4 linked regions of the Homo sapiens genome follow. Each later gene encodes a partner of the first gene's protein in a complex. Each region holds a gene or a part of one and is shown in the gene's direction. Other genes may lie near its edges. The genes, in order: CDK4, CCND3, CDKN1A and CCND1.

Region 1 (7,092 bases):
GGGACAACTTTGCCCATAAAATTTTAACAAAGAATACTCTTTAGAATGAGATAGAAAGTTGCAGAATGGGAAGTGAAAAAAAGTGCCCCACGGGGAGAAATACTGAGCTAAGCAAGGGCGCTGGCTGGGCCCCTCCCTTCAAGGGGGGCACAGAAGCACTCTCCTTTCTGCCCACCTGCAAGAGAACAGGTCCCCTTAGCTTACGGAGACCCTGGGGCGAGGGAAATAGGAGAGAACAGCAGTCCCTGTTAATGGGTGAGAGGGATTTTGCGCTCTCCGGGGAGAAAGCCCCACCCCTTCCTGGGGACCCTTGACCCTCCGACACAAACAAGCGCTCCAGGAGTCCCCTGCCAGCCCCTCGGCCTCACCCCATTCCCACTCCGTGTCCTGGGGCCCGCCCAGCCTCCTTAGGCGCCGCGCCTGCTCGCGGTCTCCGCTGACACCCCAGGTGCGCGCCTCCACCCTCCGCGCCCGGCCAGGTGCCCAGGCCTGACCTGCTCCGGGCCCTGGAAGCAGATCCGGCACTGAGGGGTTCGGAGTCCGCTGTCCAGGCTACTGCTGAGCGACAGGGCGTCCAGCGCGCCCGGGGGCGGCAGCGGCGGCGCGGGCGGCGGCAGGGGTCCGGCCCGCGGCTCCTTGTCGCCGGCCAGGCCCCGGGCCCGCGGCTCCGACCCGTAGTACTCCTCCTCGTCGCCGTCGCCGTCCCGGGTGGAGCAGCCAGCGAAGGGCGCCCAGCCGCAGCCGCCTCCCCGGCCCCCCCGGGGTTGCGGCTCGGCCCGGGGCCGCCCCCCGCCTGTCAGCACCAGCAGCTTCAGCTCGTTCAGAAACATGCGGAGCCGAGACTTGAGCATCGTCCGGACACCGGGGGCGGGGGGCAGCGTGCAAGGGGGGCTCGCTAGCGGCGGGGGGAGGGGAGAGGACAAGGCCGGGAAGGGGGCGCGCGCTAGAGAGCCGAGCCGGGCCGGGGTCTTCGGGGCCTGCGACAGCCGTTCACTGCTGCCACCGCCGGGGCTCCGGTGCTTGCGGGGCCGAGCGGGCTGGCGGCCCGGGGGCGGCGGGGTGGGCGGCCATGGCCAGGGCAGGGGGCGGGGAGGGGGGCTCAGGGTGCCGCACCCCGCGGGTCTGGGTCTGGAGCGGGCCGGGCCCCCGGGGTTACGCGCCCGGGTCCTCCTGCGGCGGGGCCGCCCCCCATCGCCGTTCTCTCGGTCCCAGTCCCCCTCCGGCTCCGGGATCAGGCTTGGCTCGGCCCGTGCGCTCGGCGGTGGCAAATGGCGGCTCCTTCCGGCGGCGGCGGCGGCGGAGACCCCCCCGGAGTGGCGGGCGGGCGGGGCGGGCGCCGGGGAGCGGGTGAAGGATGGAGGGAGGGGCGGGGCGGGGAGGGGGAGAGGAGAAGGGGCCGCGGCTGCGCATCCCCGCCCTGCCCCGCACGAGCAGGTGTCCCAGGGGCGGGGGCAAGTGTGGGATCCCGAGGAGGGTGGAGGAAGGGGAGTGGCCAAGGAAGGGGAGTGTGCACACAAGTTGACTAGGTGTGTGTCTGGGAGTGGGGGATGAGCGGGTGAGCATGGAAGGTGAGTGGTTAAATGACGCAGGTGTACCAGGGAGGGTGAGGCTTGTGCAAAATGGGAATGTGCAAAGAAAGAGCTGTGCAAGTGTCGGAGGTGTGAGGGAGGTACATGGGCAGGGGTGGGACTCAAGCAATATACACTTTACCCAAAGGGCTGAAAAGTGTGATCGATGGGGACTGGGAAAGAGAGGTGTGTAAGGAATGGAATCGGATTGTCTGAGAAACAGAAGCCTGTGATTGTAATGTGTGAAGGAGGTGAGGGAGGGAGCAGGGGAGGTAGGCGTGCTAAAGGGATGGGAGTGTCTTTCCTGGTACTCTCCTGCCCTCACCTCCACTACACTGAAGTGAACAATACACACACTTACCCCTTTCCTTTTATGGAGACTTCCCTCTGAGGCCAAGTTCTACCCCCATCACATTTTTTTCTTTCTTACACTTACATTCTCCCTCTCCTCCCCTTTGCAAAGCTGAGGGAAAAGGGATTCCAGGGGAGCTCATTGGGTCAAACATACTGGGAAAAAATTTAATTAGTGAAAGAGTAATTAACAGAAGAAGGGAGGGGACAGAGCCTGGGACAGACTGCCAAATTAAGGTTCCTCAATAGAAAGTGATGGAGAGACAGTAATGTTCCCATGAAGTATTCAAATGTTTTGGATGGACTAATGAATGAATCAGAAAAAGGGGCTGGGACCCAAGCAGACAGAGAGGACGTCTTCTGTTGCAAAGACAGTAAGCTGTGAAGGTCTTATGTGGAAGGTGAGGCTGAAGTGGGGAATGCTGGTGTGGGAAGGGAGTTTGAAAAACTCACAGACAATTATCTTAGCCTTCCAGAAGGCTTACAAAGCACCCACCCCTAGCAAGGTAGCCAATAAAACATTCACCTCTTGAGCCCCTTAGTCAGTTCAGTCCTTGAGGTTTTTCTTACTAGTGTTCCAGCTGCCCTTGCCAGGAGGGGCCCAGGGCTACAAGTATCAGGATGGAAAGAGGAGGCATCTGTATTAATATGTATTCTATTTTGCTCTAAGTCATGGTTTATATTCATCTTCTAGTTTGAACTCTTATATTCTCAGCCAGATGGTTAAGGAAAACAGAAGTTAGAGTGGAAGGAGTGGCAAATAGGGTAATAAAATGGCTTTAGATTTTAGACAAATTCTCACAAATGAGACACTAACCGCTTTCCTCCTTTACTCCCATACCCCCAAAGGGCTGGGAGATAAAGACCTTGGAGCCAATAAAACAAAGTAGGAGAAATCTACTTGTGTCTACCTAGGTGTCTGGGCAGAGGCCATTTGGGAACAAGTGTGTTCTGGACAGTGCTAAGTGCTAAGAAAGCGGCACTAGGGAAAAAGAGGGAAGCACAATAACTCCAAATGAGTAGTCACAAGGTTTGCAGAAGGGGGCATGTCATTTTCATTCATTGTGGTGGTCTGGAGGGTGCAGGGGGTGTGGTGGTAACTTTCTTGCACATGTGCAATCCTGTATCCGTCTTATATATGATGTGATAAATAATATCATATACATACATATATACATAGAAGCATATATGCACACATACAAATATCACATAATCATAGAACCTTCCTACTGGAAAAAAAAAAAAAACTTAAAAGGTCAAGTATTCCTGTCTCCTGCTCATCAATAACTTCTCTGCCAGATGGCCTCAGGTCTTTGCATTAACACTCCCAGGGAGGTTTGGAAGTTGGAAAAGTGAGAGGATTACCTTGTCACTGAGCCTGTTGGATTACTGTATTAATCTGCCTTCCGTCATCCTTTAATCGTAGTTTTGCCCTCAAATGGGCATTGTTTACTCCCTATTGTAGAAGACCCCATTGTTGGCTACATCTTTATAGATAGTCGTACCACTACTTTAAAGGGCCAGTGACAGACACCAAAAACAAAATAAAAACCCACATACACACTGGAAGCAAGCACTCAGTAAAATGTTGTAGAATTAATGAATGAAACAATGACACAAATGAGAGTATGTTTTCTCATGGTGGAGCGAAAAGGTGACAGCATCACCTCTGGTACCCCAACTCCCACCCCCTCCCCAATGCAGACAGGCTGAAAGACCGGTAGTGAGACTGGAGTTCAGCCTTCAGACCGGTAGTGAGACAATCCTTCAGCCGGGAGTTGGGCTCTGGGTGGCCTAGGTTGCCATGGCACCGCCTCGGGCTCCACCCTCTCTTGTCCCCCTCACCGCTCCCCCCCTGCAGCGGGGGTTGTGGCAGCCAGTCACGTGCCCGCCGCGTAGCCACACCTCTGCTCCTCAGAGCAATGTCAAGCGGTCACGTGTGATAGCAACAGATCACGTGGCTGCCATCGCCCCTCCGCCCCCTTACACTCTTCGCCCTCCTCCCAGTCGAAGCACCTCCTGTCCGCCCCTCAGCGCATGGGTGGCGGTCACGTGCCCAGAACGTCCGGCGTTCGCCCCGCCCTCCCAGTTTCCGCGCGCCTCTTTGGCAGCTGGTCACATGGTGAGGGTGGGGGTGAGGGGGCCTCTCTAGCTTGCGGCCTGTGTCTATGGTCGGGCCCTCTGCGTCCAGCTGCTCCGGACCGAGCTCGGGTGTATGGGGCCGTAGGAACCGGCTCCGGGGCCCCGATAACGGGCCGCCCCCACAGCACCCCGGGCTGGCGTGAGGTAAGTGCAGTCCCTTCCCAGGAATGAGAACCAGTGCCCGCCCCCCTCACAGCTTTCCACGCGTTCGTTTCGCGAGCTGGTTATGGAAGGGTCGCTCAAGGGCGGGAAGTGGGGCCTTTGTGGTCATGGGAAAGTATAATTTTAGGGACTGAGGTGTAGGATCTTCGATGCAAGGCATGTGTCATGTGTGATCTTTGTGCGGGGCGCGATTGTCCCAAAGGAAAAAGCGTTTTCTATTGCAGGGCCTCACGTGGCTGGAGGGGTTGGTATTGAGTCATTGTGTTATCTCTGGGGCCGGCCCCAAGGAAGACTGGGAGCGGGGGATGGGATGCTGGTGGTGTTCTTTGCGCTTTTTTTTTGGGAGTCCCTTTGTTGCTGCAGGCTCATACCATCCTAACTCTGTAAGCGACTTTTGGTGATAGGAGTCTGTGATTGTAGGGTCTCCCTTGATCTGAGAATGGCTACCTCTCGATATGAGCCAGTGGCTGAAATTGGTGTCGGTGCCTATGGGACAGTGTACAAGGCCCGTGATCCCCACAGTGGCCACTTTGTGGCCCTCAAGAGTGTGAGAGTCCCCAATGGAGGAGGAGGTGGAGGAGGCCTTCCCATCAGCACAGTTCGTGAGGTGGCTTTACTGAGGCGACTGGAGGCTTTTGAGCATCCCAATGTTGTCCGGTGAGAAGGTGGTGGAGGGTTGGGCGTGGGGAGTAAAGGGAAAAGACAGCCTATAGGTGGGGTGTGATGATCTGTAGAGAAGTGGGGACCCTGAGGAAATAATGAGAGGCCATGTTGGGTTAAAGGGGATTGAAAAGTGAGCATTTACTCTGGTCAGGCTGATGGACGTCTGTGCCACATCCCGAACTGACCGGGAGATCAAGGTAACCCTGGTGTTTGAGCATGTAGACCAGGACCTAAGGACATATCTGGACAAGGCACCCCCACCAGGCTTGCCAGCCGAAACGATCAAGGTGAGTGGGGTTGGTAGGCATTGAGAGGTGGATTGGGACCTTTGTAGTAGAACCTTCTGGGATTTCAGGTATGGTGCCTAGTTTCCAGTGCATCTGTACCTCCCCTTTGAAACTAGGATCTGATGCGCCAGTTTCTAAGAGGCCTAGATTTCCTTCATGCCAATTGCATCGTTCACCGAGATCTGAAGCCAGAGAACATTCTGGTGACAAGTGGTGGAACAGTCAAGCTGGCTGACTTTGGCCTGGCCAGAATCTACAGCTACCAGATGGCACTTACACCCGTGGTCAGTAGAAAGATGGTACCAAAATGGGTTCTGGTTGGGAGTAGGAGAGTGATTGCCCGTAGCAATTGAGAAGTCATGTGCTTCATGTGTTCAGTCAAGCAAGTTGTGTTTCATGGTAACCCATGGGGTCCCCATCCATTCTTCCTATTCCCTTTAGGTTGTTACACTCTGGTACCGAGCTCCCGAAGTTCTTCTGCAGTCCACATATGCAACACCTGTGGACATGTGGAGTGTTGGCTGTATCTTTGCAGAGATGTTTCGTCGAAAGTATGGGACCCACATACCCTGGACTACCTTGAATTCCCCAAATCGCTTGTTCATAAACCACATCCATACCTTGCCCATTCTTTTTTTTTGAGACCAGGGCTTGCTGTGTTGCCCAGGCTGGATTGCAATGGCATGATCACAGCTCACTGCAGCTTCAACCTCCTGGGCTCAAGTGATCCTCCCATCTCAGCTTCCCAACTAGCTGACACTACAGGCACGCACCTCCATGCTTGGCTAGTTTGTTAATATTTTTATAGAGATGGGGTCTCAGTATATTGCCCAGGCTGGTCTTGAACTCTTGCACTCAAGCAATCCTCCCACCCCTACCTCCCAAAGTAGCATAAGCTACTGCATCTGGCCCCATTCTTTTACTTGCGTACTACTAACTTGCCCATAGCAGAAAGCTCTGAAATGTTCTGGAATTAGGAACTTCATATCCCTTTATTCTCTTTATTTTTTATTTATTTATTTATTTATTTATTTATTTATTTATTTATTTATTGAGATAAGGTTTCACTCTGTCACCCAGGCTGGAGTGCAGTGGCCCAATTACAGCTCACTGTAGCCTCTACCTCCTGGGCTAAAGCAATCCTCCCATCTCAGCCTCTTGAGTAGCTGAGACTACAGGTGCACGCCACCATGACTGGCTTTTTTTTTTTTTAGATGGAGTCTTGCTCTGTCGCCAGGCTGGAGTGCAGTAGTGCGATCTCTGCTCACTGCAACCTCCACCTCCCAGATTCAAGCAATTCTCTTGACTCAGCCTCCCAAGTAGCTGGGACCACAGGTGCACGCCACCATGCTCAGCTAATTTTTGTACTTTTAGTAATGACAGGGTTTCACCATGTTGGCCAGGATGGTCTCGATCTCTTGACCTCATGATCCACCCACATCAGACTCCCAAAGTGCTAGGATTACAGGCGTGAGCCGCTGCACCTGGCATTTCTTTTTTTTTAAAAAAAGAGACAAGGTCTTGCTTGCCCAGGCTGATCTAGAACTCCTGGGCTCAAGCAGTCCTCTCACCTCAGCATCCCAAAGTGCTGGAATTGTTGGCCTTTATTCCCTATACTTCCTATTTTGAGCCACTAAGCAGTAACCATTCAACTAAGATATCTTTGAAAATGACTGCTACCTTATATCCCTTCTCACCTTAGGCCTCTCTTCTGTGGAAACTCTGAAGCCGACCAGTTGGGCAAAATCTTTGAGTAAGTGACCAACATGGGAGAAAAAGATTTTCTATTCTGAGTCCTCTTTCTGCTGAACCCAGGATGGCAACTGGCTCTGCCCATGGGGATGGGAACTGGAGGACCCTCCTGACCAGAGTTCTCCTGTCCCCCACAGCCTGATTGGGCTGCCTCCAGAGGATGACTG
Region 2 (4,380 bases), on another chromosome or scaffold:
GCAAGGTCCTGCCTCAGCATCGCACTGAGCAGATGAGTGTAGAACCTGGGTCTTCTAGCTAGACCAGGTTGCCTTAAAAGTCAGGAATGTGATGGCCGCTGCCACCTACTGAAGCTAAGCACTCCCAGGGGTGTGTTCTCCACCAGTTAACACTGGGATTCTCTGGTTGCCTGGATATGGGGAAAGGTGGCCACTTTCCCTCAAACACAACCCCTTGCCTCCCCATAGGGAGAGTCCCACTCCCAGTTGCCTTCCAGATGCTTCCTTAGAAGCTGAGTCCCTTCTGTTTACTGCTGAGTTAGGAGTTGGCTCCTGGGACATGCACTAGGGGTAGCGTTGTAATTTATCTGTCTCACTTCTGGCTCCAGGCCAGGCTATTTTCTCTGGGGCTCTGTGAGGGTAGGGGTTGATTTGAGAGGCTGACACCTAAGCTGGGGCCAAGAGAGAGACAGCTGTGGCTGGGGCCTGGAAGAGGTTGGGTGGGGTTGCCATTTCTGCCTCAATAAGGAGTCAAACCCACAAGTTCCTTCCTGAGATAAAACAATGAAGAAATCCTCATGTGTGCAACTCAGAAATGGGGCCAGGTCTGGGAACCCATGACGAGTGGACTGGGGTGGAGCTCCCAGCCTTCTCCCGAGACCTAGTACTGGCAGGTAGGCTTGGGTAGGTGAGGATAGGGCTTGATCCCTCTGGAATCATTTGGAGCCATCCTGTCTGGCTTGGCCTCTACCTATCCTCCTGAAAGTCAAGTGGCATGGGGCACTACGGGTTCCAGCTAAAGGGGGTGGGGTGGGGTGCTATACCTCAGGACCCATCCCTGATATCCTACCAAGGGGATGTGGCTTGGGTTGGGCAATCTCCCCTTTGAGGAACCTGAGAAAAGGCTCTGTGGCTGTCATTGGAGGAGTCATACTCCCTTCTGTTGATTCAAGAAGTGTGGACTTGGCTGGGATGCAGAGTTGCAGGGGAAGCTAGTGGTGATCTCCCCTTTCACAAATCCTTGGGGTTGAGAGAGTCTTTCTGCTTCATCCCAGAAGAGAGCCCAGTTCATGGTGATGCTGTGGTATCTGCTGCTTCCGTCTTTCAGCCCTGGCTGGAGAAATCCTCAGAGCCCTGAATGAAGTCAGGAGAAGGCCTGGATTATTGGCCCCTTAAACATAACCAGACAGGATTAAAAGGGATAATCCATGTAAAGCATGTTGTCCTGGCACCTAGTAAATGATCAGTAAGTGCTCAAAGCACATGCCTCCTCCTCTTCCCTGCCTTGAACTCCATGGTGCCCGGCCTTAAAATCAGAAACAGAACTGGGGTCTTGGGCTTTAAAAGTTTGATGGGCTTCCCTGCCTGAGACTTTGAGACTTCTGCTTTGCTCCCTCCTCTTCACTTCTCCAGCCACTGACCCCACCCTTTCCCCGCTTTTTCAGGACTGGGAGGTGCTGGTCCTAGGGAAGCTCAAGTGGGACCTGGCTGCTGTGATTGCACATGATTTCCTGGCCTTCATTCTGCACCGGCTCTCTCTGCCCCGTGACCGACAGGCCTTGGTCAAAAAGCATGCCCAGACCTTTTTGGCCCTCTGTGCTACAGGTAAGAGCCCTATGCACATTTTTGCCAAATTGGAAAAATCAGAAGACTTATAAGGGTGAGAGGTAACTGAAGATTCTGGTTTATACTGTCAAAATTCCTTTGTGAAAATTATACCCCCTCTGAGCCCCCAGTCTCAATGCAGAAAAGCAGGTTATAATCAGCTATATGGGATCTCAGACCCCTCCAGTTTGTAGTGGGGACACTGAGGGTATAGAGAGAAGTGACTTGCCCAAGGTCTCACAGTGAACAGGTTGGGAACAGAACCCCAGTCTCTTGGCCCTAGTTGTGTTCCCATACTAGGGAGTGTCTTGTCTATTCCCGGGACCTATGGAAACTGGCAGTTGGTTCTGATCTCTAGGAAAGATACTCTTTCCTGTCTTCCTCCCTTGCTGATATCTTGCCCCACCCACTGCTGGAGTTTTCCAGCATGTCCTCTGCTCTACTCATGCTGCCTGGCACTTTCCAAGGAGTCGGAAGTCCATGCTGGCCGTTATCCTTCAGGTTTCCTTCTCTCATGGTTCCCTTTCCTCCTCTCCAAGATTATACCTTTGCCATGTACCCGCCATCCATGATCGCCACGGGCAGCATTGGGGCTGCAGTGCAAGGCCTGGGTGCCTGCTCCATGTCCGGGGATGAGCTCACAGAGCTGCTGGCAGGGATCACTGGCACTGAAGTGGTGAGTGCTGGGTAGCTGGGCAGCAGCCTCTCCATTCATAAAGTAGTGCTATGCCCTGAGCCTCCAGTAGAGGGAAACCTCCAACCCCAACCTGGTCCCAAGTCCTGGTTTCACAACCTTGGGGCTTTGTGGCTTTTTATCTCCTGCCTTGGTCTGGGGAAGAGCAAGTATCTTGGGTGGGGTGAAGGGCACTGGCCCTAGGGGTTCTTTTCTTGCCAAGTGGTGTGCTGGAGTGGGGGTGGGGGGTTTGGTGTCAGATGCAGGGCTGCTCTCACACTCCCTTGCCACATCCTCTTGCTAGTTTCTGAGAACTAAAGAGCGATTCCTGGGGCCGGGCTGTGGCCTAACCTCCCCAGACTTCCCCATGTGTTGGGAGCTGTCCTTCCCCTGCACCTGCTGCCAGATGCTATGGGGGGAGTGTTTGCTCCTCACTCTTCTCCCATGTTCCCAGGACTGCCTGCGGGCCTGTCAGGAGCAGATCGAAGCTGCACTCAGGGAGAGCCTCAGGGAAGCCTCTCAGACCAGCTCCAGCCCAGCGCCCAAAGCCCCCCGGGGCTCCAGCAGCCAAGGGCCCAGCCAGACCAGCACTCCTACAGATGTCACAGCCATACACCTGTAGCCCTGGAGAGGCCCTCTGGAGTGGCCACTAAGCAGAGGAGGGGCCGCTGCCACCCACCTCCCTGCCTCCAGGAACCACACCACATCTAAGCCTGAAGGGGCGTCTGTTCCCCCTTCACAAAGCCCAAGGGATCTGGTCCTACCCATCCCCGCAGTGTGCACTAAGGGGCCCGGCCAGCCATGTCTGCATTTCGGTGGCTAGTCAAGCTCCTCCTCCCTGCATCTGACCAGCAGCGCCTTTCCCAACTCTAGCTGGGGGTGGGCCAGGCTGATGGGACAGAATTGGATACATACACCAGCATTCCTTTTGAACGCCCCCCCCCACCCCTGGGGGCTCTCATGTTTTCAACTGCCAAAATGCTCTAGTGCCTTCTAAAGGTGTTGTCCCTTCTAGGGTTATTGCATTTGGATTGGGGTCCCTCTAAAATTTAATGCATGATAGACACATATGAGGGGGAATAGTCTAGATGGCTCCTCTCAGTACTTTGGAGGCCCCTATGTAGTCCGTGCTGACAGCTGCTCCTAGAGGGAGGGGCCTAGGCCTCAGCCAGAGAAGCTATAAATTCCTCTTTGCTTTGCTTTCTGCTCAGCTTCTCCTGTGTGATTGACAGCTTTGCTGCTGAAGGCTCATTTTAATTTATTAATTGCTTTGAGCACAACTTTAAGAGGACATAATGGGGTCCTGGCCATCCCACAAGTGGTGGTAACCCTGGTGGTTGCTGTTTTCCTCCCTTCTGCTACTGGCAAAAGGATCTTTGTGGCCAAGGAGCTGCTATAGCCTGGGGTGGGGTCATGCCCTCCTCTCCCATTGTCCCTCTGCCCCATCCTCCAGCAGGGAAAATGCAGCAGGGATGCCCTGGAGGTGGCTGAGCCCCTGTCTAGAGAGGGAGGCAAGCCCTGTTGACACAGGTCTTTCCTAAGGCTGCAAGGTTTAGGCTGGTGGCCCAGGACCATCATCCTACTGTAATAAAGATGATTGTGAAATAAAACTGGCTTTGGCTTCTTGGATTGGTGTGTGGGTAAGTCTATTTCTGCACTGTATGAGGTAAGGAGGTGGAAGTCAATGGTCTAAAGCAGGGATCATTGAGCCTTTTCTGTAAAGGGCTGGATATTTAGGCTTTGTGGGGTACATGGTCTCTGACCCAAATATAGTCAGTTCTGCTTTATAATGTGACCTATGCGTTCCTAAAAATCACTATGCCATGCAAAATTGCACAATAAAGACCACAGGTCTCATGGGAAAAATGGGGCTTGAAGCACAACACTCAAATGAGTGACACATTTAAAAAAAAAGGATAGCTTGGTTTTTACATATGTCAAATGGTTGAGAAATTATATCACAATAAATATGGCCTTTTATCTTGAAGACATGCACTTTGCTTTTGGAAGTGGACGTCGGAAGGGTTGCTCAACACAGGTGGGGAGATGAGTGAGGTAGCTGGTACATGTTTAGGTGTGAGTTTTGTGTACTACTTAGGCTTGGTTCAGCTAGATACAGTTTC
Region 3 (6,142 bases), on another chromosome or scaffold:
TCCCGAGTAGCTGGGACTACAGGTGCTGCCATCATGCCCGGCTAATTTTTTTTTGTATTTTTAGTAGAGACGGGGTTTCACCGTGTTAGCCAGGATGGTCTCAATCTCCTGACCTCGTGCTCCGCCCTCCTCGGCCTCCCAAAGTGCTGGGATTACAGGTGTGAGACACTGCACCCAACCACCCAGCTAATTTTTATTTATTTTTATTTTTAGTAGAGACAGGGTCTCAGCTAGTTGCCCAGGCTAGTCTTGGACCCTTGGGCTCAAATGATTCTCCCACCTCTGCCTCCCAGAGTATTAGGATTACAGGCATAAGCCACTGCCCCTGGCCTCCCCAAGTGATTGTGATGGGCCTCTCTGGTTAAGAAACCTCAAAATTAGAGAGGGAGTGGGGTTCAATACTACAGCACAGGACTCAGGGCAAACAGGCCTGGGTTCAGATCCTGGCTGTGCCACTTATGAACTGTGTGATGTTAGGCAAGTTACTTAACTTATCTGAGCCTTGGTTGCCTCTTCTGTAAAAAGGGAGCTAATAGATATCCACTTTTTAGGAGGATTGATATTTTTAAACTGCTTAGAACAGCCCCCAAACATAAAAATATATAAATAAATCCCAACTCATGCCTAGCAGAGGGTGGATAGAGGTTATTTGAGGGCTCTGTCCACTGTACTGGGTGACCCCTTTATGGGGCAGTGGCCTTTGGCCTTTTTAGCTGTATGACTCAGGGGCAAGTCTCATATCTCTTCCATCTCCTGCCCTTTAAACTTGGTGTGAAGTTACCAAGAGCCTCCTCTCCCAACCAGCTGGGACGTGAAACTGTGGGCTCCACTGATCACAAGCAGTGGGGTGAGGTGGGGTGGAGCAGATGTGGCATGTGTCCCGGGCTTCCTGCCTCATGAGGACTCAGCAGAGCTTTCACCCCCAGAAACTGCAAGTTGGGACTTGTCCCTAGGAAAATCCAGTTGCTGCCAAGGTCGTGCAGTCACTCAGCCCTGGAGTCAAGCCAGAGCAGGCAGGTAGGTGCCAGGGCTCCCTCATGGGCAAACTCACTCTCCGTTTTCCCTCTCCTGAAGGGGGAGGAGAGGAGCCAGGTAGACCAGCCACCTTTAATTTTCTTTTTGCCTGCAAAACGGTTTCCTTGGACACAGGCAACACGAGGCAGGGGCTGCCAGGTGTCTAGACTTCAGATCACCTGATGTGCCTGGCAGGATGTGGCTCAGCCTGGGAGAAATCATCCCTTGCGCTGCCCCGCCCGGCCCCTCCTTACCCCTAGGCCACCCGCCTGACGACATCCTTGGGAAAGGCCCTCAGCCTACAGCACCTGTCAGCTGCTGTCTGAAGGAGGTAGTTGGCAGGGGGAAGTGATAGGGGGGAGGCTCAGTAAAACTGAAGGCAGAGAGGAATAATCATACTTCTGTTTTCAATGCACTTCTCTATACGAAGTGCTGCTGGCACGTTACCTACATTAACTCAGTTAATTCTCATGTCTATCCTCTGAGACAGTCACTATTACTATCCCCATTTTATAGATGAGGAAACTAGAGCTCAGACAAGTTAAGTTGCTTGCCCAGGGTCACCTAGTAAAACCTGGACTCCAGCCCAGGTGATCTGGCTCCAGAGCCCTCCTGCTTAACCACCAGGATACAGCCTTTCATTCAGCTCTGTTCTGTCTGCCTTGCTGCATGGACTCTGTGATCAATTTCTTGAGTATGTGTCTGTAGCCATGCTCTTTAAACTTGTACATGGCCCCATTTATGGATGAGGAAACTGAGACCTAGAGACATTAAGTGGCTTTTTAAAGCTTACGTAGTAACTGGCAGAGCTAGGACCACAACCCGGGTGCTTTTTGCCCCAAAGTCCCGGGTACTTTTACTTGGCAGAGCAGGGTTACCCTACTTGGGGATCTGGGTCGGGGGACTTAGGAGGCTGGAGGAACTGTCAGACTGTTTCTTCTTTTGGGAATTGACCTTCTGGCCAGGGCTGCGATTAGGAAACTGCTGGACTCTGGCAATTCACACATATTTGGGGGGCATTCACACCCATGAGGGACACCTCTGGGGGGAAAACAAATTGATTTTAGCTGATAATACCTGGTGGCAAACAGGACCCTGGTCCTTGCTCTTGCAATAGACTTGCCTTTGTTGACATTAGCTTGCCCTTCAGTTGCCTGCTCTCCCAGTGACCTTGGTGTGCCAGGCTGGCTGAGCTCTGCTGGTGGGGGTCAGGCCTCCTGTGGGAAGGAAGCAGGAAGACCAGCTGGAAGGAGTGAGAGAGACCCTCTGGTAGGAAGACGTCACCTGAGGTGACACAGCAAAGCCCGGCCAGGTAACATAGTGTCTAATCTCCGCCGTGACCAGGGCCTTCCTTGTATCTCTGCTGCAGGCGCCATGTCAGAACCGGCTGGGGATGTCCGTCAGAACCCATGCGGCAGCAAGGCCTGCCGCCGCCTCTTCGGCCCAGTGGACAGCGAGCAGCTGAGCCGCGACTGTGATGCGCTAATGGCGGGCTGCATCCAGGAGGCCCGTGAGCGATGGAACTTCGACTTTGTCACCGAGACACCACTGGAGGGTGACTTCGCCTGGGAGCGTGTGCGGGGCCTTGGCCTGCCCAAGCTCTACCTTCCCACGGGGCCCCGGCGAGGCCGGGATGAGTTGGGAGGAGGCAGGCGGCCTGGCACCTCACCTGCTCTGCTGCAGGGGACAGCAGAGGAAGACCATGTGGACCTGTCACTGTCTTGTACCCTTGTGCCTCGCTCAGGGGAGCAGGCTGAAGGGTCCCCAGGTGGACCTGGAGACTCTCAGGGTCGAAAACGGCGGCAGACCAGCATGACAGGTGCGGACATGTGCACGGAAGGACTTTGTAAGGGACCAGGATTCTCAGAATCCATGGTCCAAGGGCTGACCTGTCTGGTCCTGGTCCAGCATGCTCCAGGTAGAAGGAAACAGGCCCAGAGAGGGGAAGCAACCTCCCTGAGGTCACACAGCAAGTAGGCAGCAAAGACCAACTAGCTAACATTTATTGGGAATGTTCATTATGCCAGGCCCTTTGCCAAGCTTCTAAGGTAGATTTATTTAGTCCTTATAGCAATGTTATAACATAAGACATTCTTGTCACCCTGCCCGCCTTTCTTTTTGAGACAGGTGTCTTAACTCTGTTGGCCAGACTGGAGTGCAGTGATACGATCATGGCTCACTGCAGCTTCAAACTCCTGGGCTCAAGCGATCTTCCTACCTCAGCCTCCTGGGTAGCTGGGAAGCTGGGACTATAGTTGTACACCACTACGCCCGGTTAATTTTTTGAGTTTTTGTAGAGACAAGGTCTCACCATGTTGCCCGGGCTGGTCTTGAACTCCTGAGCTCAAGCAGTCCTCCTGCCTCAGCCTCCCAAAGTGTTGTGATTACAGGCGTGAGCCACCATGCCCAGCCCCTTGCCATCCTTTTAGGGCAAGGAAACCAGGCTCAGAGAGGTAGAGTGATTTATCTAAGGTCTCAAAGTGAATTTGCCGTTGGGTCAAGACTAATTATAATAACAACAACTACTGACGTTTATATGGGCCCGGCATTGTGCTGAACACTTTCATGGATTTTGTAACAGAATCCCTAGATCAGCACTGTCCAGTAACTCTGCAGGGATGGGAGTGTCCGGTACAGGGGCCACGAGCCACATACGGCTGTTGTGCATTTGACACACAGCTCATGTGACTGAGGAACTGAATTGTTCATTTTATTTGATTGTAGTCTGTTTAAACAAGCACACAGAGCTAGTAGTGGTTCCTCTGCTGGGCAGCTTGACTTAGAGCAGACCCATGGGTGCGGGTGCGGTGATGGATAAAATCACATCTGTGAAGCATGGTGGGACACTCCATAATACCCCTCAAGAGACAGAGTGGACGTTCCCCGAGTTCTTCCTGTTCTCAGCAGTCGGCCCCATTGGCCCCAGGGAAGGGTGTCCTGGCCCCCCACTGTCTTCCTCAGTTGGGCAGCTCCGCCGCGTCCTCTTCTTCTTGGCCTGGCTGACTTCTGCTGTCTCTCCTCAGATTTCTACCACTCCAAACGCCGGCTGATCTTCTCCAAGAGGAAGCCCTAATCCGCCCACAGGAAGCCTGCAGTCCTGGAAGCGCGAGGGCCTCAAAGGCCCGCTCTACATCTTCTGCCTTAGTCTCAGTTTGTGTGTCTTAATTATTATTTGTGTTTTAATTTAAACACCTCCTCATGTACATACCCTGGCCGCCCCCTGCCCCCCAGCCTCTGGCATTAGAATTATTTAAACAAAAACTAGGCGGTTGAATGAGAGGTTCCTAAGAGTGCTGGGCATTTTTATTTTATGAAATACTATTTAAAGCCTCCTCATCCCGTGTTCTCCTTTTCCTCTCTCCCGGAGGTTGGGTGGGCCGGCTTCATGCCAGCTACTTCCTCCTCCCCACTTGTCCGCTGGGTGGTACCCTCTGGAGGGGTGTGGCTCCTTCCCATCGCTGTCACAGGCGGTTATGAAATTCACCCCCTTTCCTGGACACTCAGACCTGAATTCTTTTTCATTTGAGAAGTAAACAGATGGCACTTTGAAGGGGCCTCACCGAGTGGGGGCATCATCAAAAACTTTGGAGTCCCCTCACCTCCTCTAAGGTTGGGCAGGGTGACCCTGAAGTGAGCACAGCCTAGGGCTGAGCTGGGGACCTGGTACCCTCCTGGCTCTTGATACCCCCCTCTGTCTTGTGAAGGCAGGGGGAAGGTGGGGTCCTGGAGCAGACCACCCCGCCTGCCCTCATGGCCCCTCTGACCTGCACTGGGGAGCCCGTCTCAGTGTTGAGCCTTTTCCCTCTTTGGCTCCCCTGTACCTTTTGAGGAGCCCCAGCTACCCTTTTTCTCCAGCTGGGCTCTGCAATTCCCCTCTGCTGCTGTCCCTCCCCCTTGTCCTTTCCCTTCAGTACCCTCTCAGCTCCAGGTGGCTCTGAGGTGCCTGTCCCACCCCCACCCCCAGCTCAATGGACTGGAAGGGGAAGGGACACACAAGAAGAAGGGCACCCTAGTTCTACCTCAGGCAGCTCAAGCAGCGACCGCCCCCTCCTCTAGCTGTGGGGGTGAGGGTCCCATGTGGTGGCACAGGCCCCCTTGAGTGGGGTTATCTCTGTGTTAGGGGTATATGATGGGGGAGTAGATCTTTCTAGGAGGGAGACACTGGCCCCTCAAATCGTCCAGCGACCTTCCTCATCCACCCCATCCCTCCCCAGTTCATTGCACTTTGATTAGCAGCGGAACAAGGAGTCAGACATTTTAAGATGGTGGCAGTAGAGGCTATGGACAGGGCATGCCACGTGGGCTCATATGGGGCTGGGAGTAGTTGTCTTTCCTGGCACTAACGTTGAGCCCCTGGAGGCACTGAAGTGCTTAGTGTACTTGGAGTATTGGGGTCTGACCCCAAACACCTTCCAGCTCCTGTAACATACTGGCCTGGACTGTTTTCTCTCGGCTCCCCATGTGTCCTGGTTCCCGTTTCTCCACCTAGACTGTAAACCTCTCGAGGGCAGGGACCACACCCTGTACTGTTCTGTGTCTTTCACAGCTCCTCCCACAATGCTGAATATACAGCAGGTGCTCAATAAATGATTCTTAGTGACTTTACTTGTAATATTACTATTGTGGTTATTATACCTTATAAGAACAAATAAATGGGCTTTTGGGAAGGATTTCATAATTAAATAATTTTAAAAATTAAGCATTTAAATTTAGAGAATGCAGAAAACTTAGCAAACAGAAAGACTGCTGCAAAAAACAACAGCAAAACAAAAACTACTGTCACACCTCTGCAAAGATCACCAATGTCAATATTTTGGTTTGTTGTGTAATCTTTTTGTAAAGAATATATTATAGCTTAACATCATTATTCATCAGATAAATGCAAATTAAGATACCACAATAAGATACCACCATACACTTACCAGAATGATTAAAAAAGACTGACAGTGCCAAGCATTGGCAAGGTTATGGAGCAACTGGATCTCTTATTTAAAAAAACTGTTTGGGCCGGGCGCAGTGGCTCACACCTAGAATCCCAGTGCTTCGGGAGGCTGAGGCAGGAGATCACTTGAGGCCAAGGGTTCAAGACCAGCCTGGCCAACATGGTGAAATCTCTACTAAAAATACA
Region 4 (7,912 bases), on another chromosome or scaffold:
ATTTGTTAAGCACCTTCTTGCTCCGAGCTTTCCAGCCACAGTGCACTGGACGCCATCGGAAGGCTGCAGCTGCTATTTGGTGCTTTACCACCGCTGAGAAGGTGGAATGGTCACGGCCCGGTTCTGTCACTTTCTTCAGCCGGACAGTCGCCTTATTACGGATTCCAGTAGGGCCGAGCACACTCCTTCCTGCCCGTCTTTACAGATGAACATGCTATCGCTCCAGCAGTACAACCCGCCTTATTACGTAAAAAAGCAGCCCCTATCTACCCGCAGGGAAGGAGTATGTTCGGCACCACAGCTGGACTGGTGCTCGAGTTAAGCGTCCTGGGAGGTCCGCATGCGCTCCGGAACCGTAATGCGCGCTTTTTCTAAGCCTTACGGTAAACGCGGACGCAGGGCAACCACGTGGCGGTGGAACCGAGGCCCGGCGGGAATGCGCGGAATGCGCGGCGCGGCCTCGCGCGGTTCCCGAGCCACGGCCCAGGGTCCGGCGGCGCGCGCTCTCGCCTCCTCCCCTCACCTCTCCCAGCCGCACCCCGGCCCTGGCCCTGCCGCCCAGAACTCGCTGGGCAAGTCGTGCCCCGCGTGAACACACAGAAGGGGCTTGGGGACCGAGCGCGGCCCATCAGTCCCTCAGACCCTGAGGACCCAGAATTCCCTAAGGGGTCCGAATCCGAGTCCTGCCCCCAGCCCTTAAGGCACGGGCTCCAGGGACCCCAGGGGAAGGGCGCGGGGCATTAGGTACGCAACCCGTTTCCCCGCACCTGGAAAAAAACTCCCTTTCCCTCCCCTCCCCTGCTTGTTGAGTGTCCGGATAACCAGAACTCTAAGGCGCCCCGTAATAACGACCCCGCTGTCCCTCCACCCACCCCCAAGTGCCAAAGCGAGGGATGGAAGCGCTTTCAAGCGTTCCAAGGGCATTGAGGAGCGAGCTGGAGAGGCGCGGGGATGCGGGGTCCTCCCCGCAGTCTTCCGGAAAGGGCGGGGGAGGGCGCGGCAAGTTCCGGAGTGGGGCATGCCGTGGGAGCCCACGAGGGCCTCAGCGCGGATCCTCCGCCGGAAAACCGGCTCCCGCGAGCCGCCGCCGCAGGTTTCCTAGGCCCCGCGAGTCCCGCAGCGAAGCCCTGCGTCTCCGTCCGACGCGGGGGTCTGCTCAGCCTCGGGTGGGCCGCGGCCAGGCCTGACTGCGGGGGAGAGGGCCGAACGTGACCTCCGAGGTCACCCCCAGCCAGCTTTCTCTCCTGTGGTCGGAAGTGGTTTTCTTCTCGATCTGGGCGCCTACTCCCCACCACTTGGTCTGAGAGGGGCTGGGGCCGGAAGGCCAGGGAATCTCTGGTGGATTTGGGGGTTCATATTGCTCAGGGTACCAGCCGATGCGTTTTGAGGGGCGGGAGTCGAGGAATTAGAATCGCCTTTAACCCTCAAGAGTTGCGCCTTCAGCCTCGGGATCCCAGATGCGTCGTTGGAGCCAGGGCCGCCCCCCTACCTGTTGGGTTTGCGTTTTAACTCCAGCGCACACCTTGCCGGCAGCCCTCGGAGCTAGGGGAGGGGTCTCGTTTCCCCGCAGCCCGCCGGACAGACGACTGGGGCACGGGAGGGGCGGTGGCAGGGTGGTCTGTGTGTGGCTGAAACTAATTGATCTGGAGCGGAAACGCACGTCTGCGGTTGGGGCGATGGGGGGGGCGGTGCGGCTGTCCATGTGCCGAGCGTGTGGCTGTCTCGGGTGGGCACTGGGGCCGGAGTTCGCCCCGGCCCACCTCGCAGTTTTGGGGCGCCTGGGATCGGCGCTACGTAAGCGAAGCAGAGCTGCCATAGCACGTGGGCCGCCACGCGCACCCCAAAAGCAAGCAGTGTGGGGGGAAGGGGAGCTCGAGCGCCTTCGGAGCCCAGGGGCCGGCTTTCGGAAGCGTTTTCCCGGGCGACTTAAGGGCTTAACAATGGAAAACTCGCGGAGCCTGAGCCAAGTCCTTTCAAGTCGCCGCCAGGTATGCGGCTGCAGGTGACCCCACCTGGGTGCGCCCGCCCGCCAGCCGCCCTGGTGGAAAAGCGGGTGCGGGAGGTCGCTGGCGAAAGGTCGGGACTGGTCCCTGCACCACCCGCCCCCAACCCAAGCCCCGAGCCCCGCGGCGCGCAGCCGCGCTGAGTCCCGGGGTCTGCGTCGCGGCGCGCCGGTTCCTGAATGAACGCGCTCCCTTCCCCCGCCTGAATGAAGGTTCCCACAGCCAGGGACGGTGGCGAACACGCGCCTGCAGCGGAATTCGCTTTCTCCTGACCGACCATCCGCCCAGGCCGCGGTCACCGGGGCGGGGGCCAGGGGGCGAGGAAAGCGTGAAGGTGATTTCAGTTAATTTTGGATTTTCTTTCAAACAACGTGGTTACCCTCCCGACTGGGCCACTTGCCCTTTGTCTCCAAATGGTCACCAAGAAATAAGAACAGAGCACTTTAAATGAGCCCAGAATCCGCAGTTCCTGCTTCGTGGTGGGTTTTAAGAAGACAGTGTAAAGTAAAACTGCAACCGAAAAGTTTTTTAAAGTTGCTTTTCTCTTTGGAAAAAATAAAATCAAAATGCTTTCTCTGCGCTTCTTGAAGCAATGACCCTCAAAAGCCCAGAGGTATTGGCCCCCTCGGGGGACCCGGGGGCCGCCAAGCAGGGTTCCCCCAGGTGGGGGCTGGGCAGCTGGCGCTCCCCGCCGGGCCCCAAATTCCAGCGCCGGGCCCCAAATTCCAGCGCCTCCCCCGCGGGTTCCTGGACGGCTCTTTACGCTCGCTAACCGGGCTTGCAATTTTGCGCTCGTCCCTGAGCCGGGAAATCAACGAAGTTCCTAGTCGAGATCTGCCCGGTCCGCCTAGTAACAGCGCCGCGCCCCCATTGGCTCATGCTAATTCCAGTTTCCTCTGTCTTGCGCCCGGGATGGGGGGGTGAAGCTCCCTCCTGGACCCAGAGCCGGTTGTGCCGGAGTGGGCGAGCCTCTTTATGCCCTGCTGCCCCTAGCCGACTTCGGCCCGCTTCGCGCCTCGGGCTGGGCCAGGGCGCACGCGGGGCTCGGGGCCCCTCGCCCCACGGGATGGGAGAGGCCGGGTGATAGCTCCGGGCCCCATAAATCATCCAGGCGGCCGCCGGGTCGGGATTTTATGAATGAAAAAGCAGCTGGGCCGCCCTTGTGCGCGGGCTGATGCTCTGAGGCTTGGCTATGCGGGGGCCAACGCGATTGTGGGTGCTCGGGGAGTGGGGGGGGGCACGACCGTAGGTGCTCCCTGCTGGGGCAACCCATCGCTCCCCATGCGGAATCCGGGGGTAATTACCCCCCCAGGACCCGGAATATTAGTAATCCTAATTCCCGGCGGGGGAGGGGGCGCGGGAGGAATTCACCCTGAAAGGTGGGGGTGGGGGGGGTCGCATCTTGCTGTGAGCACCCTGGCGAAGGGGAGAGGGCTTTTTCTATCAGTTTTCTTTGAGCTTTTACTGTTAAGAGGGTACGGTGGTTTGATGACACTGAACTATATTCAAAAGGAAGTAAATGAACAGTTTTCTTAATTTGGGGCAGGTACTGTAAAAATAAAAACAAAAGTTAAGACAGTAAAATGTCCTTTTATTTTTTAATGCACCAAAGAGACAGAACCTGTAATTTTAAAAACTGTGTATTTTAATTTACATCTGCTTAAGTTTGCGATAATATTGGGGACCCTCTCATGTAACCACGAACACCTATCGATTTTGCTAAAAATCAGATCAGTACACTCGTTTGTTTAATTGATAATTGTTCTGAATTATGCCGGCTCCTGCCAGCCCCCTCACGCTCACGAATTCAGTCCCAGGGCAAATTCTAAAGGTGAAGGGACGTCTACACCCCCAACAAAACCAATTAGGAACCTTCGGTGGTCTTGTCCCAGGCAGAGGGGACTAATATTTCCAGCAATTTAATTTCTTTTTTAATTAAAAAAAATGAGTCAGAATGGAGATCACTGTTTCTCAGCTTTCCATTCAGAGGTGTGTTTCTCCCGGTTAAATTGCCGGCACGGGAAGGGAGGGGGTGCAGTTGGGGACCCCCGCAAGGACCGACTGGTCAAGGTAGGAAGGCAGCCCGAAGAGTCTCCAGGCTAGAAGGACAAGATGAAGGAAATGCTGGCCACCATCTTGGGCTGCTGCTGGAATTTTCGGGCATTTATTTTATTTTATTTTTTGAGCGAGCGCATGCTAAGCTGAAATCCCTTTAACTTTTAGGGTTACCCCCTTGGGCATTTGCAACGACGCCCCTGTGCGCCGGAATGAAACTTGCACAGGGGTTGTGTGCCCGGTCCTCCCCGTCCTTGCATGCTAAATTAGTTCTTGCAATTTACACGTGTTAATGAAAATGAAAGAAGATGCAGTCGCTGAGATTCTTTGGCCGTCTGTCCGCCCGTGGGTGCCCTCGTGGCGTTCTTGGAAATGCGCCCATTCTGCCGGCTTGGATATGGGGTGTCGCCGCGCCCCAGTCACCCCTTCTCGTGGTCTCCCCAGGCTGCGTGTGGCCTGCCGGCCTTCCTAGTTGTCCCCTACTGCAGAGCCACCTCCACCTCACCCCCTAAATCCCGGGGGACCCACTCGAGGCGGACGGGGCCCCCTGCACCCCTCTTCCCTGGCGGGGAGAAAGGCTGCAGCGGGGCGATTTGCATTTCTATGAAAACCGGACTACAGGGGCAACTCCGCCGCAGGGCAGGCGCGGCGCCTCAGGGATGGCTTTTGGGCTCTGCCCCTCGCTGCTCCCGGCGTTTGGCGCCCGCGCCCCCTCCCCCTGCGCCCGCCCCCGCCCCCCTCCCGCTCCCATTCTCTGCCGGGCTTTGATCTTTGCTTAACAACAGTAACGTCACACGGACTACAGGGGAGTTTTGTTGAAGTTGCAAAGTCCTGGAGCCTCCAGAGGGCTGTCGGCGCAGTAGCAGCGAGCAGCAGAGTCCGCACGCTCCGGCGAGGGGCAGAAGAGCGCGAGGGAGCGCGGGGCAGCAGAAGCGAGAGCCGAGCGCGGACCCAGCCAGGACCCACAGCCCTCCCCAGCTGCCCAGGAAGAGCCCCAGCCATGGAACACCAGCTCCTGTGCTGCGAAGTGGAAACCATCCGCCGCGCGTACCCCGATGCCAACCTCCTCAACGACCGGGTGCTGCGGGCCATGCTGAAGGCGGAGGAGACCTGCGCGCCCTCGGTGTCCTACTTCAAATGTGTGCAGAAGGAGGTCCTGCCGTCCATGCGGAAGATCGTCGCCACCTGGATGCTGGAGGTGCGGGGCTTCGGGCGGCTCTCTTAAGACTTCCCTGCAACTTGTTGCCCAGACCCACGTTTCTTTGCTACTCACCCCCCTCCCTTCTCTCCCGCTAGAACTTTGAAGTTTGCCGTGGTGTTTCTAGGGATCCGTATTTTCAAAATAAAAATTGCGGGTATTTTCTGAAGGAGGAAGGGGTGGGGGTGGGGGTGCTAGAAGTAGCGTTTCGTGGGAGGGGAGAAGGGGGTCCGGGAGGGGTGCCTTCGGGAGAAGCCAGTGCCAGGGGCACCCCAATGGGCCCGAGGGTGCGGGCTGGCAGGCTGGGTGCGCTTTGTGTCCCCCGCCTGCGCCCCAGCCCGGCTGCGCCTCAGCGGCCGGGAGCCGCCAACTCCGGGGGGAGGGGGCATAGATTTGATTTTTAAATTAATATCCATGGACACGTATGCAAGGGCCGCTCGTGCCAGTATTATGCGCCATCTTTGCTCTTTTATTGCAAAGCAAAAGTGTTTATTAATAATTGGGGGCAGGGTGGGGGCGGGGAGCGGCCGCCGGGCGCTGGGGCCGCAGCTAAGGGCCGCGCGGCTGCCGGGAGCCCGCGGGAGGGGCGCAGGGACGCGGCATGGGTAGTTTTGGGGGGACGCCGCTAGGGAAGGGGGGGCCTTTGTTCAAGCAGCGAGTCCCGGGGCGCCCCGAACGGGCAGCCTGGGCCGGAGAGCACGGCGAGCTGCAAGGTCGCGTGGCCCCCAAGACGCCAGGGCTTGATCCCCGTCTGCAGGGATATCGGCTTGGAGGACCTTCTCCGAGCGAGCCGGGGGCCTGGGAGCACATTTTCAGACCTTCGGTGGGCGCCTGAGGGGCCCGCAAGTATTTTAAAATAATTTTTGAAAGTGCGGCGTGGTGCCCTTGCGAGAGGGAAACGCCGCCCGCGCCCAGGGGGAAGGGGGGGCCCCGGAGTTTGAATTCCTGGGGCTCCCCCCGGAGCCTGTAACGAACTCCCAACCCCCGGCCTGGGTAAAGGGTCGCCCGAGGGTCATTTTCAGGGTTTTTTTATGCACTTAGTTATTTTTTTAATATTTTTAAATATTTTTTGAAAAGATGACGTCTGGGGAAATGCGGCGCGGCGGCCTGGGACGCCACCTTTGTGTCTCGCAGGCGCGGCGCCCAACCCCGCGGCCCGTTCCGCGGCCCCGCACCCCAGTTGGTGTCGACCCCCAGTCAGAGGGACCACGGAGCTCCAGGGCGGGCCAGGGTCCCGGGGGCCGGCAGCCCGCGCCGCCGCGCACGCCGCCCAGCTGTGCCCGCTCCCGCCCCCACCGTGCCAGCCTCGCGGGGACTTTCCCTTTCAGTTTCGGGGAGGGTGGGTACTGGGGACGCGCGGGGGAGGGGGCGCATCACGGGAAGCTCCTGCCGCCCCCAGCCCCGACCCCTCGGCGCCCTCCAGACCTGGCGGCCCTGCCAAGCGCGATGGGGGGTGCGGGGGCGTGCGGGGGGGCGGCGCGACCTGGCGGCGGCGGTCACGGGCCCCGTGCCTCCGTAGGTCTGCGAGGAACAGAAGTGCGAGGAGGAGGTCTTCCCGCTGGCCATGAACTACCTGGACCGCTTCCTGTCGCTGGAGCCCGTGAAAAAGAGCCGCCTGCAGCTGCTGGGGGCCACTTGCATGTTCGTGGCCTCTAAGATGAAGGAGACCATCCCCCTGACGGCCGAGAAGCTGTGCATCTACACCGACAACTCCATCCGGCCCGAGGAGCTGCTGGTAACCACTGGACCCCGCCGCCCCCCGCCCCCCGCGAGCCGCACGCAGGACCACGGGGCCGGGGAAGGTGCAGGCGGTGGCGGCCGGCCCGCCTCTGACATATCTGCTCCTCCGAGGGAGGGCGGCCCCGCCGCCGGGCGTCCCTGTCCGGGGAGCGGGCGGGATCCTAGCCGCCCTCGTCCCGCCGCCCTGTGTGCGCTTGCCTGCGACTCCCACCGCGTTCGCGCCCCGCGGTGTGGCCGAAAAGTGGGCGGCGCGCGCCCTCCAGCGGCTGCACGAGGAGCGCCGCGCTCGGCGCTGAGCCTCCAGTTCCAGGTGGTGGGAGGTCTTTTTGTTTCCACTTGCAGAGTCTTTTCACGCGGCGGGCGCCTTTTCTGTTTTGATCTGGGATTGCGTGTTGCCCCAGCTCCCTTGAGTCCCCAGCATTCGCCAGCCCTCCCCTCCAACATCCAGGACCGCACGAGACGCAGGGGCCAGTGCTCTGAGCCGGAGGTGCGGCGTGGCCCGGCCCCCGTGCTGCCGGCTTCCCCGCGCCCCCGGGCTGGCCCGCACCTCCCCTGATGGCCGCTCACCCTGTGTTCGCAGCAAATGGAGCTGCTCCTGGTGAACAAGCTCAAGTGGAACCTGGCCGCAATGACCCCGCACGATTTCATTGAACACTTCCTCTCCAAAATGCCAGAGGCGGAGGAGAACAAACAGATCATCCGCAAACACGCGCAGACCTTCGTTGCCCTCTGTGCCACAGGTAGGGCAGGCCCGGCAGCCCCCGGCCTCCCCTTGAGAGCCGGCTCCTTAGGTGACCCTGGCCGGCTTCTTGCTCTCCACCTGGGTGCTGTCTGGGAAGATGTCCCCAGACCCCCTCCTGCGCTGGAGAGCGCTCTTCCAGCTCTGGTGAGCAGAGGCCCTGGATTGTTTGTCGCG

Evidence for each region.
Region 2: the proteins of CDK4 (region 1) and CCND3 are in contact, whole or in part, in a crystal structure (PDB 7SJ3), measured with the Homo sapiens proteins. Residues at the interface, in NP_000066.1 of Homo sapiens: Gly46 (codon at 4,798), Gly47 (codon at 4,801), Gly48 (codon at 4,804), Leu49 (codon at 4,807), Ile51 (codon at 4,813), Thr53 (codon at 4,819), Val54 (codon at 4,822), Arg55 (codon at 4,825), Val57 (codon at 4,831), Ala58 (codon at 4,834), Leu59 (codon at 4,837), Arg61 (codon at 4,843), Arg62 (codon at 4,846), Glu64 (codon at 4,852), Ala65 (codon at 4,855), Phe66 (codon at 4,858), Val77 (codon at 5,048), Ala79 (codon at 5,054), Val89 (codon at 5,084), Asp129 (codon at 5,320), His132 (codon at 5,329), Ala133 (codon at 5,332), Asn134 (codon at 5,335), Cys135 (codon at 5,338), Arg163 (codon at 5,422), Ile164 (codon at 5,425), Tyr165 (codon at 5,428), Ser166 (codon at 5,431), Tyr167 (codon at 5,434), Gln168 (codon at 5,437); in NP_001751.1 of Homo sapiens: His11, Pro13, Arg14, Ala15, Gly16, Pro17, Asp18, Arg20, Leu21, Arg26, Val27, Ser30, Leu31, Arg33, Leu34, Arg37, Tyr38, Glu74, Lys112, Leu113, Arg114, Glu115, Thr116, Pro118, Ile121, Glu122, Pro134, Arg138, Glu141 (codon at 1,431), Val142 (codon at 1,434).
Region 3: the proteins of CDK4 (region 1) and CDKN1A are in contact, whole or in part, in a crystal structure (PDB 6P8H), measured with the Homo sapiens proteins. Residues at the interface, in NP_000066.1 of Homo sapiens: Gly18 (codon at 4,714), Thr19 (codon at 4,717), Val20 (codon at 4,720), Tyr21 (codon at 4,723), Lys22 (codon at 4,726), Ala23 (codon at 4,729), Asp25 (codon at 4,735), Val32 (codon at 4,756), Leu34 (codon at 4,762), Ser36 (codon at 4,768), Met75 (codon at 5,042), Asp76 (codon at 5,045), Cys78 (codon at 5,051), Ala79 (codon at 5,054), Thr80 (codon at 5,057), Lys88 (codon at 5,081), Thr90 (codon at 5,087), Val92 (codon at 5,093); in NP_000380.1 of Homo sapiens: Met38 (codon at 2,500), Cys41 (codon at 2,509), Ile42 (codon at 2,512), Ala45 (codon at 2,521), Arg48 (codon at 2,530), Trp49 (codon at 2,533), Phe51 (codon at 2,539), Phe53 (codon at 2,545), Val54 (codon at 2,548), Glu56 (codon at 2,554), Asp62 (codon at 2,572), Phe63 (codon at 2,575), Ala64 (codon at 2,578), Trp65 (codon at 2,581), Glu66 (codon at 2,584), Arg67 (codon at 2,587).
Region 4: the proteins of CDK4 (region 1) and CCND1 are in contact, whole or in part, in a crystal structure (PDB 2W96), measured with the Homo sapiens proteins. Residues at the interface, in NP_000066.1 of Homo sapiens: Gly45 (codon at 4,795), Gly48 (codon at 4,804), Leu49 (codon at 4,807), Ile51 (codon at 4,813), Thr53 (codon at 4,819), Val54 (codon at 4,822), Arg55 (codon at 4,825), Val57 (codon at 4,831), Ala58 (codon at 4,834), Leu59 (codon at 4,837), Arg61 (codon at 4,843), Arg62 (codon at 4,846), Ala65 (codon at 4,855), Phe66 (codon at 4,858), Asp76 (codon at 5,045), Val77 (codon at 5,048), Cys78 (codon at 5,051), Ala79 (codon at 5,054), Arg82 (codon at 5,063), Ile87 (codon at 5,078), Val89 (codon at 5,084), Asp129 (codon at 5,320), His132 (codon at 5,329), Ala133 (codon at 5,332), Asn134 (codon at 5,335), Cys135 (codon at 5,338), Ser285, Phe287, Arg288; in NP_444284.1 of Homo sapiens: Leu6 (codon at 5,074), Cys7 (codon at 5,077), Cys8 (codon at 5,080), Glu9 (codon at 5,083), Val10 (codon at 5,086), Thr12 (codon at 5,092), Ile13 (codon at 5,095), Ala30 (codon at 5,146), Lys33 (codon at 5,155), Ala34 (codon at 5,158), Thr37 (codon at 5,167), Phe108 (codon at 6,899), Lys112 (codon at 6,911), Met113 (codon at 6,914), Glu115 (codon at 6,920), Pro118 (codon at 6,929), Leu119 (codon at 6,932), Thr120 (codon at 6,935), Ala121 (codon at 6,938), Leu138 (codon at 6,989), Gln139 (codon at 7,577), Glu141 (codon at 7,583), Leu142 (codon at 7,586), Val145 (codon at 7,595), Asn146 (codon at 7,598), Lys149 (codon at 7,607), Trp150 (codon at 7,610), Asn151 (codon at 7,613), Leu152 (codon at 7,616), Ala153 (codon at 7,619).

Annotation. Positions count from the first base shown.
Region 1 is NC_000012.12:57,749,288-57,756,379, reverse strand, and holds the start of CDK4 (cyclin-dependent kinase 4), read left to right. Parts: upstream 1-4,069; 5' UTR 4,070-4,205; intron 4,206-4,643; 5' UTR 4,644-4,662; coding exon 4,663-4,880; intron 4,881-5,037; coding exon 5,038-5,173; intron 5,174-5,289; coding exon 5,290-5,457; intron 5,458-5,614; coding exon 5,615-5,724; intron 5,725-6,160; exon of another isoform or gene 6,161-6,875; coding exon 6,876-6,926; exon of another isoform or gene 6,927-7,062; coding exon 7,063-7,092. Other genes in the region: E3 ubiquitin-protein ligase MARCHF9, read right to left, coding at 495-851.
Region 2 is NC_000006.12:41,934,439-41,938,818, reverse strand, and holds the end of CCND3 (G1/S-specific cyclin-D3), read left to right. Parts: exon of another isoform or gene 1-653; intron 654-1,424; coding exon 1,425-1,584; intron 1,585-2,123; coding exon 2,124-2,260; intron 2,261-2,711; coding exon 2,712-2,879; coding exon of another isoform or gene 2,880-2,968; 3' UTR 2,969-3,867; downstream 3,868-4,380. UniProt on the Homo sapiens protein: Regulatory component of the cyclin D3-CDK4 (DC) complex that phosphorylates and inhibits members of the retinoblastoma (RB) protein family including RB1 and regulates the cell-cycle during G(1)/S transition.
Region 3 is NC_000006.12:36,681,714-36,687,855, forward strand, and holds the end of CDKN1A (cyclin-dependent kinase inhibitor 1), read left to right. Parts: intron 1-2,383; coding exon of another isoform or gene 2,384-2,388; coding exon 2,389-2,833; coding exon of another isoform or gene 2,834-2,932; intron 2,933-3,738; coding exon of another isoform or gene 3,739-3,797; exon of another isoform or gene 3,798-4,037; coding exon 4,038-4,087; 3' UTR 4,088-5,619; downstream 5,620-6,142. UniProt on the Homo sapiens protein: Plays an important role in controlling cell cycle progression and DNA damage-induced G2 arrest. Involved in p53/TP53 mediated inhibition of cellular proliferation in response to DNA damage.
Region 4 is NC_000011.10:69,636,256-69,644,167, forward strand, and holds the start of CCND1 (G1/S-specific cyclin-D1), read left to right. Parts: upstream 1-4,900; 5' UTR 4,901-5,058; coding exon 5,059-5,256; intron 5,257-6,775; coding exon 6,776-6,991; intron 6,992-7,576; coding exon 7,577-7,736; intron 7,737-7,912. UniProt on the Homo sapiens protein: Regulatory component of the cyclin D1-CDK4 (DC) complex that phosphorylates and inhibits members of the retinoblastoma (RB) protein family including RB1 and regulates the cell-cycle during G(1)/S transition.